2 separate regions of the Homo sapiens genome follow, and region 1 is linked to region 2. A link means that fine-mapping ties the variant in region 2 to the expression of a gene that starts in the linked region. Tissue or cell type: whole blood. Region 2 holds a variant in brackets; the other region holds the start of a gene. All regions are shown on one strand. Distances are between the middles of the regions. Region 1 holds the start of LRRC8D (leucine rich repeat containing 8 VRAC subunit D). Region 2 overlaps LRRC8D (leucine rich repeat containing 8 VRAC subunit D).

What was found. PIP is the estimated chance that this variant, and not a neighbour inherited with it, causes the effect.
Region 1: LRRC8D starts here. The variant in region 2 is fine-mapped to the expression of LRRC8D in whole blood (TOPMed, PIP above 0.99). The same link has a PIP of 0.9 or more in T cells.

What each region holds. Positions count from the first base shown.
Region 1 is chr1:89,818,329-89,823,710 of GRCh38, reverse strand. LRRC8D (leucine rich repeat containing 8 VRAC subunit D) reads right to left here and starts at 2,679. Exons shown (of 3, transcript NM_001134479.2): 1 at 2,420-2,679. It overlaps LRRC8D-DT (LRRC8D divergent transcript), which reads left to right and starts at 1,917. Exons shown (of 1, transcript NR_185885.1): 1 at 1,917-3,537. RefSeq lists silencers at 1,710-1,929, 1,801-2,010, 2,101-2,200, 2,301-2,650, 3,091-3,150.
Region 2 is chr1:89,860,608-89,865,989 of GRCh38, reverse strand. The region is part of intron 2 of LRRC8D (leucine rich repeat containing 8 VRAC subunit D); the gene reads right to left. Among named protein-coding and RNA genes, the nearest start is that of LRRC8D-DT, 42 kb to the right of the region's middle. The variant T/CT (reference allele first, on the strand shown) is at 2,331.

The sequences.
Region 1 (5,382 bases), 42 kb after region 2:
AGATCCCACAGCACCCACTCCAGTTCTCTGCTTCCTGCTGGCACTCAACAAATATTAACTGGTGTTTCTTAGAATGTCAAACACCAGCTCCAATTAAAAATAACTGAAATCTCTTACAAGCTACCACTTCAACAACATAATAATCATGATTACAAAGTTTTGACAAACTTTTGACTTTAATAGCTATTTTGTCTACAGTACTGAGAACAGAATCGAGTCTAATTTCCAAACTATAGCTACCAAAACAATTTAACTATTTGGACATGACAAACACATCAGAATTTTCTAAAATTAATTTTTAAAAATGCTGCATAATATAAAAATTAAGGGAAAAGGGGCCTAGTTTTTTTCTTTTTTCTTTCCATTAAACTTTAGCGATTTTGAGAAAAAAAGGGCCAAGTTTTGACCATGTTTTTTAAATGCTGGAAAACACAGCAGGGAGAAAATGATATGAATATGGCTCAATACTTTAAGTGTTGCATCATATGCTACTCCACATGGTAATGGAAGGCTGGGTCATCTAAGGACAGTTTCCTCTCCAACCTTCTAATCTGTTAGGTTTTAATCAACACGCACACATACACTCTCAATAAAAACGAGACAAATCTAACATAGTGTTCAAATATATAAATAAACTGTGCCAATTCAAGATTTTGGAATTTTTCCCTGGCTCCATAGATTACCTAATCATTTTATGGGGGGCTCCATAAGTAACCTACAGAGACCAAACACCCCAAATCAACTTTTCGTGACCCCTGTTTTAACCACCTAATTTTCATCTCAGATTCCTCCCCATCTTGCACTTGGATTTTAACAGGGATTTAGTTAGTTGGTGTCAAGACAGATGAAGCAAGAACCCCAACTCTCGCCTAGCTGACAGTAGGTGTTTGGTCACTATTTTTGGACTGCAAAAATAAATGCTGCCTGAGGACCCCATTTACAGGATATGGTGCAGGGTTCTTCCCACAGGTCTGTAAGAAGCAGAGGTCCCAGATGCTATGGCGAGGAAGGTCTGATCACTCTCATTCTTGGCACTGGGAGGGGCCCCTTATTTGTTTATAAGGTAGACAGCCCTCATCATTACTGCAAACGGGGATTCCCTGCCTGTCCAGACTCTTCCAAAGTCCGGTACAAACCACGTAATAGGTGCTCAATAAACGCTGCCTGTACGGAATTTTACTATCAAAGCTGCCAAGGAAAGTTTCCAGAAATCAGCTCTTCCAAAATATGTCCTCAGAGTTTTCTTTGTCCAACAAAAAAATATTTTTGAAGATCCAAGAGCAGGAAATCTGCGAGGCAACGAGGAGCCAAATATAAGCCAAGCGGCTCCAGCTGGGCCCCACATTCCGCTAGGACTCCCCAGTACCTATTCCCCATCTCTCCGCCTACATCCTGAGTGCGCCCTCCCTCTCATCTCGGCTGTTTCCTTCCCACAACCCTACCTCCATACTTTCGGCCACACACACCCCAAGTGCGTGCTCCTGGAACCTCACAGCCCACCTCTCCCTCTCCAGCAAGGACCTACCTCTCTTCCCCTCGACCTGCAGCAGTTCTTCTTCACTGCAGCTGGCTTTTTAAGAAATCAAAAAATCTCATTTATCTGCAAGGGATACCCCCTAGTAAAGGGTGACGGAAAGGAGAAGGCCCCTATCAACCCTCCAGTAACTGGAGGTGCTGGTCCTCCCGGCAACCACCCCCAATTCTCCTCCTTTTCAAGCCCCTGGACAGGATTTGAGCAGAAGTCCCGCTCCCAAGAGCCCACGCCTCCAAACAAGCTAGAAGCGGATTATACCGGTACCCAACCCGGAGACGGCCCGCGGACGGCTGGGTGCACCTGCGGGCCCCCAGCTCCCTCCCACAGGCGCGGGGGGCGGGGCGCGGGCCTTCACCTCCCCGCCCCCGCCCGCCGGGCTCCCAGCGCAGCCCACCCTGCACAGGAAGGAAGCGGAGGGGAGGCGATTCTGGAGAAGTTAAAGGGCTCACCTTTGGACGCCGGGCCAGCAAGGCCAGACACCAAACACCCACCTCCGGGAGGAACCAGCAGAGCCGAAACCGGCTCTCCCCGCCTTTCCGATAGGGCGGAGGGAGGTGAGAGAAGGGAGCGCGCGCGAGGGGTTCAGGAGCCAGGAAGCCGCACTCCCCTCCCGCAGGGCCGGCCGCCCGGGGCCGAAGCGGCCGACGCTCAGACTGCAGAAAGCGGAACAATCTCCCAGGCCCTGGCGGCAGCAAACGGGAGCCCACTCCGCTCGCCGCCACCTCCTCCCGACCCCCGGACGTCCCCGAATGAGTTCCCGGCCGCAACCGCAGCTCGGGCCGCGGCGCCTGCGCCAGGGTTGCGCGCTCCGGCTCGGCGCGGCTCCACCTGCGCGTCGCCTTCCCTCGCAGCCCCCGGCCCCTGCCGGGAGAGGTGCGCACCAACCTTGGGGTGCAGCTCGGCCGCCAAGCCACGGCTTATGCTGAGGCCGGAGGTGGCGGCATCACCCGCGGCGGGCGGCGGCTGCACCGGGACGCGCCGGGGCGGCGAAGGCGCGCTGCACCCTGGACCCTGCTCCCGCGGCCCCGCCCGCGGCTGCCACCTCGAAGCGCGGCGGAGGAGCCGGGGCACCACGGGCGGCGGCAGCGGCAGCGGCAGCAGCGGCGACGGGAGCAGCAGCACATGACTCTGTAACGAGGGGAATTAGACAAAGCGTAACATGGACTCCGGGCCCGTGCAGGCGCTGCAGCTCTGGGACCAACCGCAGCCGGCGAGTGCCGCGACTGGCCCGGCCGCAGCCAATGGGGCGGGCCCGGGCCTCCATGTGATTGCGAGCGCTTTCTCCGGTGGCCCTGCAGCGCCTGACCGGACGGGGTCTGTGTGGCGAGGGAGGGGACCCGGGGTTGGAGACTGGCGGCGAGCGACTGCTAGATGCGGAGCAGGTGCTTGGGAGGGGAAGAACGGCAGCCTACATAACCATCGCCGTAATGCTCTCGCAAGCGTCCACCTGGGCAGGGCTCGGTGCCGGGCAGGCGCAGCTGCCAGTTAGCTGCGAGGCATGGTCAGGAGCCTTCACCCGTCCTGGGCGAAGGAGGCTGTCCCGTCGACTAAAACTCTGATATTAAGACTTGGCGCTGGGGGTGGGGAGTTGAATTACGTTAAAAAGTCACTTAAGTGCCTTCCAACTCTAAGGAGAAGTACTTATCTGAGCTTTGGGGCACACACAACTACTACTTGGCATGGAGAGTTTCTCAGCTTCATGTGTTCCGTCTGTTATTGAAGCTGTATTGGAAAGTCGGTTCTTGTTTTTATCTGAGCCCGCCGTTTTCATCCCATTCTTTTCGTCAAAAATATGTTACATCTGAAAGAGGCAGATGAAAAGATTATTCTATGCTAAGAGGGTTTTGCAGCCCGATAATGTCACCGTTTTTTGTTGTTGTTGTTGTAGGATCGGGGTTCATTTGCAGTCTTTTTTGTGGGTGAGCAGAGGCAGGGGCCAATAAATAAATTAAGGCGGGATATTTGGAGTTATTTGGTTGTAATAAAATATGTGGTTCAACCCAGTGCTTTCATATCTTCTTTTATCTGAATCCATGTGTTTCTGTAAACCATCGGAAGTCTAATCTGTCTTCTACCAATATCTCTCCATGTCAGCAAATGTTCAATCAACGTTTACCCAGCATCTAAATATTCTTAATAAGCATGCTGCACAAATGTTACAGGTACTCAGGAAGGTGTCGGTTCAGAGACAGTGAGACATTAAAGAGAATGATTGTCCAGGGTTTCAGAAAAGGATTCAGAGAGGAGCTGATAGAATTGACCCTTGGATGGTGAGCACTTGGCCCTCAGGCATTGGACGTGAAGAAGAGCAGCCCAAACAGGAACATGAACAGAGAGGTCCAGAATACACTCAAGGGACTGCCCGAGACCCGTTACAAGATGCCACCAGATTCTGAGCCCTCGGCCCTTTTGCTCTCACTTTCCTTCCCCGACCCTCCTTGCCAGCAGCCACTCCTGTTCCACACACTGCCAAGAAGGAGGTGTATGGGCAGGGAGTGTGTGTAAGTGATCTAATCAGTGTCAGATTTGCTGATCTAAGAGATGAGAGGTCTTTTAAAACTTAACAACTAGTGGTGTGATATTTTTATTGAAAACAGCCCACTATTATAATGAATATGGAATGTTTTGCTGTTTGTAAAAAAAAAAAAAAATTATAGGCCGGGTGCAGTGGCTCACGCCTGTAGTCCCGGTACCTTGGGAGGCCGAGGCAAGAGGATCACGAGGTCAGGAGTTAGAGACCAGCCTGACCAACATGGTGAAAACCCGTCTCTACTAAAGACACAAAAATTATCTGGGCATGTTGGCACGCACCTGTAATCCAAGCTACTCAGGAGCCTGAGGCAGGAGAATCGCTTGAACCTGGGAGGCGGAGGTTGCAGTGAGCTGAGATGGTGCCACCACACTCCAGCCTGGGCGACAGAGTGAGACTCCATCTCAAAACCAAAAAACCAAAAAAACCAATCTTCTGTACTTTGTTCTTTTGATCTTCCCTGGGTTTTAAATTGTGATTCTAGACTTGAAAAACATGATTTTAAGATTGGTATAAATCGAGAAAAGAAAAAAGTGATATTCAGAAAACAGTCAAATGTGGAGAAATAGACACTCACACACTGTAAAAGTAAGAGGAAATTGGACAAACCCCTTTGGAGGACAATTTGGAAATTTTTGATAAATAGGTGTGTTCCCTTTGAATAGGTAAGTCCATGTCTAAGAGTTTGTGCTTTAAGCATATTTGTGCAAAAATTATGTCAGAAATATTTACACATGTACAAAAATATATATATACGTGTCTTATTGCAACATTGTTTGTAATAGTGGGAACATGTAATGGTGTAAAAATCAAATAATAAAGTCCCAGTAGGAAACTGTTTAAGCAAATTTTGCTAGATCTGTAGAAGGAAACCATAAGCAGCCATTAACAAAAATAAGCTAGATCTATTTGTACCTACATGGAAGGATGTCCAAAATCTATAAGTGAAAAAAAAGGAGGCTGCAGAACAATATGAATAGTATGATTCCATTTTTTTGTACTTTTTTGCATTAAGATATACATGTTATTAAATGTATGCTTCAGAAGAAGTCTGGAAGCATATATAACAAGCTGTTAATGGTGATTATCTCTGGGTGTGGGATTACTAGGGCCTTTCATCAAGTTCTGTATGTTTGAATTGTTTTTATATTGAGCACATATTACTCTGATAATCAGAATAATAATTTTAAAAATTTAAAGGATTGTTTTAGAGTATATTCAGGCTATTATAACAAAATACCATAAGCTGGGTGGCTTATAAGCAACAGAAATTGGCTGGGCATGGTGGCTTATGCCTGTAATCCCAGCACTTTGGGAG
Region 2 (5,382 bases):
TCTGTTCAAGTTGTTTTCAAAATAATCTGAATGAGTCATTTCTATAATCTATTGACTTCCTTCAACAGTCTGACACTTGGCTGCATGCTGAAAACCTTAAAAATTTTCCATATCTCTAAGAACTAAAATTTACAAACATATTCCTGTTCCTGATTCTGCCAATAGTTGAATTAGATATATATTTGGAGTTGATGTCAGTAATTCTGAAATGGTAACATCATCTTTGAATGAACAGGACATTTACAGCTCTAACAAAAAAGTTGTAAGTCATTAAAATCATTAAAATTGTAACTAAAGAACTATTCACTGGCAGATTTACGATCTGATAAGTTCTGATAGTCCTGAGCTAGCAAGCAAGGCTTTCGAGTTCATAATGTGCTTCTGAATAACTTATTTATGCAAATAAGTATTCTCTACATTACTACTATCAGTCAAAAGACTCATATGCCTTAAGTACATATTTGGACCCAATGGAACAACTTCATATTTTAAAAAATCAACATAAGTGATTTAGTGTTGGCAAAAAAGCATTCATCTTATTAATTTAAATTTCAAAGGTTTTAATATATTATTTGTATTTGCGATTTTAAAATGTTTAATAGTTTTATAAAAACTATAAGCACAGAAAGTATATATATATATATATATATATATATATAATTTCATGTTTATACATATTTAGTACAATTAAGCAAAGTAATCAACAAGAATGGTTTTTGAAAACTCCCTTTAAAGGAATGAAATTCATTCACAGGTTGTGTGCTAAGCACTACTACAAGTAATAATAAGGGAATGATCTGGACCACATTCATTCAAAAACACGGGAGATCCTACTGTGTGCTGGGTATTGGGATACAGTGGGAAACAAGATAGACATATTTATGCCCTTATGGGGCTTGAAATCTATTAGAAAAGGCAAATCAATGTAATAAGTGAAATGTTGGAGATGTAAAATGTTCTATGGAAACAGCAAGGGGACCTAATCCAGTTTAGGGGTTAGACAGCTTCTGGAAGGACATTAAAACCAAAAGAAGACACAGGAGTTACCCAAACAAAAGTGAAGGAGCAGAAGGGGAAAAAGTGTGCTAGACATCAGACATACCCTGTAGTCAAAGCTTATTGTCATGAAAACTTAGCCAATAAGAAGTACAGGAAGAAGTTTTTTGTGTCTGGAAGATGGTGAGGGGTCGGGGGTAGGTAAAGCTAGTACTCTAGACTAGAGATGGAGGCTGAGGTTTCCTGCGGCAAGGTCTTGATGTCTTAAGGACTCTGGCTTTTAACTCCTTATTAAGGAGTTCCAAGGATAATGAGAATTCACTGGAGGGTGTTAAGGAGGTCACTGACATAAGGTTCCAATGTATAGAGAGCACTGGAGTTCAGAGGCAGCTGCAGCAGTCCAGGCAAAACATGATGGAGGCCGCAACTGGAGCTGTGGACTGCAGCAGCCCACAGCACAGTTAAGAGATACCAGATAAAATTTAAGATAGAATTGAGAGGGCTTGGCACTTCATTGCATCTGGGAGTTAAATGAGAAGGATACATCATGGAAAGTGTTCAAATGGTAACTGGTGGATAGTGGTGTCTTTCATCAGATGAAGGAAGAATTACAACTCCTTGTAAACTGAGGACCACCTGCATTCAAAGATGGCTTTGTACAAGTTTGAAAAAGTGTTTTTGTTTTTCTTGCAATTTCTTACCTCTGCATCTATGTTGAACAGTTTTTTCAAAACAAAAAAACAAAAATGCTACTGACTTGCATAATCACTCACACCCAGAGGCGGCAATATTCAAAACAAGTCTATGTTCTTTTTGGAAAGTCTTGGTTCAAAGACAAAAAACAGAACAGACCAATCTTTTGATCCTCACTATTGACATGGTGCCTCAATGCAAACCCAAGTACTGGTTAAGACCTTTCTTTGATGGGACAATGGGGCAAGAGCTCAACATAGCAGGCATTTAGTTTTAAGAGGTTCCAGCTCTGCACTTTATGCCATAACAACACGGATTTAAATATCAAAAGAACCAGACTCAAGTTCAAGTGACCAATGCACCTGGCAGAATTTAACCCAGCATAAAACCTCTCCATGCAAATTCACAATTTTCTAAGAACAAACAACCCTGGGAAATTTTTCCCATGACCCACTCCCTCATGAACATTTTTAATATTTCAAAAGTACTTAAAAACCGGAACAAAGCAATTTTAAAATCTCAAAGGGTCAGAGCAACTGGAATTAGTTTAAGAATGCATGATACATGAAAGACCAAGGCTTTATAAACAGGGCATCTTCTTTCTTCACACCAAAGCACAAGAAAACAAAGGAAGAACTAAA[T/CT]AACACAGACCACAGAAAATATCACATGAAAGGAAATTCATGTCTGGCCTACCCTGCAACAGAAAAATCTCAAATAAACAGGCTTGGTTTCCATGAGCTCTCTGAAAGCTAGGAGGAAAAAAAAAAGAAGCATAATCATTTTCAGCATCTTGAAAGTGAGGGACATAAGTTTATTAATATTCCAGGTTATTAGGATCACTAAGGAGGCAAAAAGAAACTGAGGTTCCCAGGCCGCCTCTTCCTGTCTCTGCTTCAACACACAGCTCAGCCCATTACCCACTTGTGTACTGCGTGATCTACATTTTGGGTCTGCCTCTGCCTCTTCCTCCAGGGGCCACAGACCAGAAGACTACATGGGCAGCCCTTTATTTTATCCAACCAATGCTTGTGCTGCACTTGCTGTGTGCCAGTCACTGTTCTAAATGCTTCACAAATAAGAGCCCATGTAATCCTCATAACAACTATATAAGGCAGGCACTATTATTATTCTTGTTTTACATACAGGGAACTGAGGCATGAAAAGGCTATAAAACTTGCCCAAAGTCAAATGGCTAGTGAGGGGATACAGCTATCTGAATCCACTCTTCATCAACTGACTAGGGAACTACAAAGGTCATTTTTAATTCTCCTTATTTCCTATATTTTCTTTATATGAGAATTTATTACTTTTATAATAACAAAGAACTAAAAGCCTTTTTATTTTGAAACAGCAAACCAAAAAATAAATAAAAACAAGGCCTTGAATATCTCATCCATGAAATCACGGGAGAAAACACCCTTCCTGCTGGAAGCCAAGGGGTCAGGCCAGATGATCTTCCTTGGATCATTTGTTACAGTAAAATCTTCAGTTCCACAGCCTGTTCCCCCAATACTCAGGTAGTAAGGGAAGCAGGAAATGTAAAAAAAAGACAGCAATTATGAACATGTGCTCTGGAAAACTCACCTGGGATCCAGTTCCAGTTTATAAGCTGTATAACCTGGAACAAGTTGTTTAAGCATTTCAAGCCTCTTTTTATCATCTGACAAAAATGGATACAGTTATACCCATCTCCTAGAGTTAACTCACAGAAAGACTGAAAAACATAAATACATCCAGCACAGAGAAGAAATACAAAAAGTGCTAAACACAGGAGAACTAAACTGTCCAAAGACTGGCCTACTTCAATTATTCCTAACCTAGAACAACCAAATAAACCAAAAATTTCATAACATCATTTACCATGGACAAAAGACGGATCTCTTATGAAGAACAATAACTTTTTCATTAACAACTTAGTAAGCAGTATGGGCTAACAGGGTATATATAGCCTTCTTTGAGCTACAATGAAATGACTCCCAGGTCCAGAGGCTGGAGTCAGGGTGGTACACTAGATGTAAGAAAATAACAACAAAATTAGGGCCCACATCTCCCTGACTTGCCTTTTTTAGTATTAAGAGTTATGTTTCAAGGAAAAAGTCACTTCACTCTTCTGATCTCCATTTTATTATTAATAGAAGAAAATCGCTGCATAGAGTGACCTGAAAGCCTCCTTCTAGCTTTAACAATCTAACGGTATAACCAGCTCTTTTAGTCATGAAGTGTGTACGAATGAGATTCTACCACTTTTCTAAATGATATCACTCTGCCAAGCAACTGGGTCTTCATACACTTTGTAATCAATAACTGTTTTATGTTGCCCCTTTAGTATCTATAGCTATTCCCCAAAGTTATGTTACATGTTCCCCTTAAAGAGGATGAATCATTCTGGCCCTTCAGGATCTGATATTCTTCTTCTCTGTCAAATACAATTATTTGTAATTAGAAGCCTGGCTCCAAAAACAGAAACTTAGATGAAGAAAAAATAAATGTTACCAGCATAGATTTCTACATCCATAAGTCCCTGTACAAAACCTTTTTCTCCATCTATATCCAACTGCTATCTGATGCTTTCATGGAGCAGAACTTGTTATAGTACACAACACAGGAAAGCTAAAGTAGCAATGAATCTTGGCTTTGTAAAAGTCTTCAGGGATGCCCATATGCCAAGTCCAAAGGATACAGAGGACCAATACCTCTTCGCTGACTTGTCCAGATATGTGACATGGACAGTGATGCTACCAAAGGAGCTCAGGGAATCCCTGGCACCACTAGTAGGCCCTAAGGCACAGGTATTAATAAAGAAGAGGACAATACAAGGTGAAAAAACCATTAATGGCTCTACAATGAATGAACTGGAGAGTAAGAAAAGAAGAAAGAAAGGAAAAAAGGCACAGAATGAAAAACTATAGAATCACAAAGTCAGTGGGAAGGAATAACTAAACCAAGTGCCTTATGTATGTTAAAGTCACATGATAATCCTCTTATCATTTTGACCTCATTTTAAAGAGGGGGAAACTGAGGCTTAGTGAATTTAGCTTACTTTCCTAGGGTCACACAGTTAGCAGGGGACAGAGGTGGTATTTAAGCATGGGCTTTTCTAGCACAAAGCTTGTGACTGAATGGTATGTACACACTGTGTAACCTTAGAGAGCATCTCTGCCCCACCCTCCCATGAAGTTTCAAATCTCTCTACTCCCTTGGCCAAGGATGGACAGACTCTCAAAAGTGCCCTTGATGCTAAGGCCCTGGACAGCACCCAGCAATTCAGCCCAGCTCTGCATGGCTTTGAAGTTGATTTGTTCCTTGCATTAACCTAAAGTATGTCTCCCTGCAACTTCTACCTATCTTTATCCCAGAAGATAATCAGATCTGCAGCAAATGAGGTTTCCTATAACAGCCCTTCTAAGTAACTTTAAAAGGGGGAATGGAGAACGTTAAAAAGAATTTCAAGGAAAATCTTAAAAATACGTACAAAATGCGTCTGTGTGTGTATATATATATATATATATATATATTTTTTTTTTTTTTTTTTTTTTTTTTTTTTGAGATAGAGTCTTGCTCTGTTGCCAGGCTGGAGTGCAGTGGCGTGATCTCGGCTCACTGCAACCTCCACCTCCCAGGTTCAAGTGATTCTCCTGCCTCAGACTCCCAAGTAGCTTTGGTTACAGCCGCGCACCACCACGCTCAGCTAAT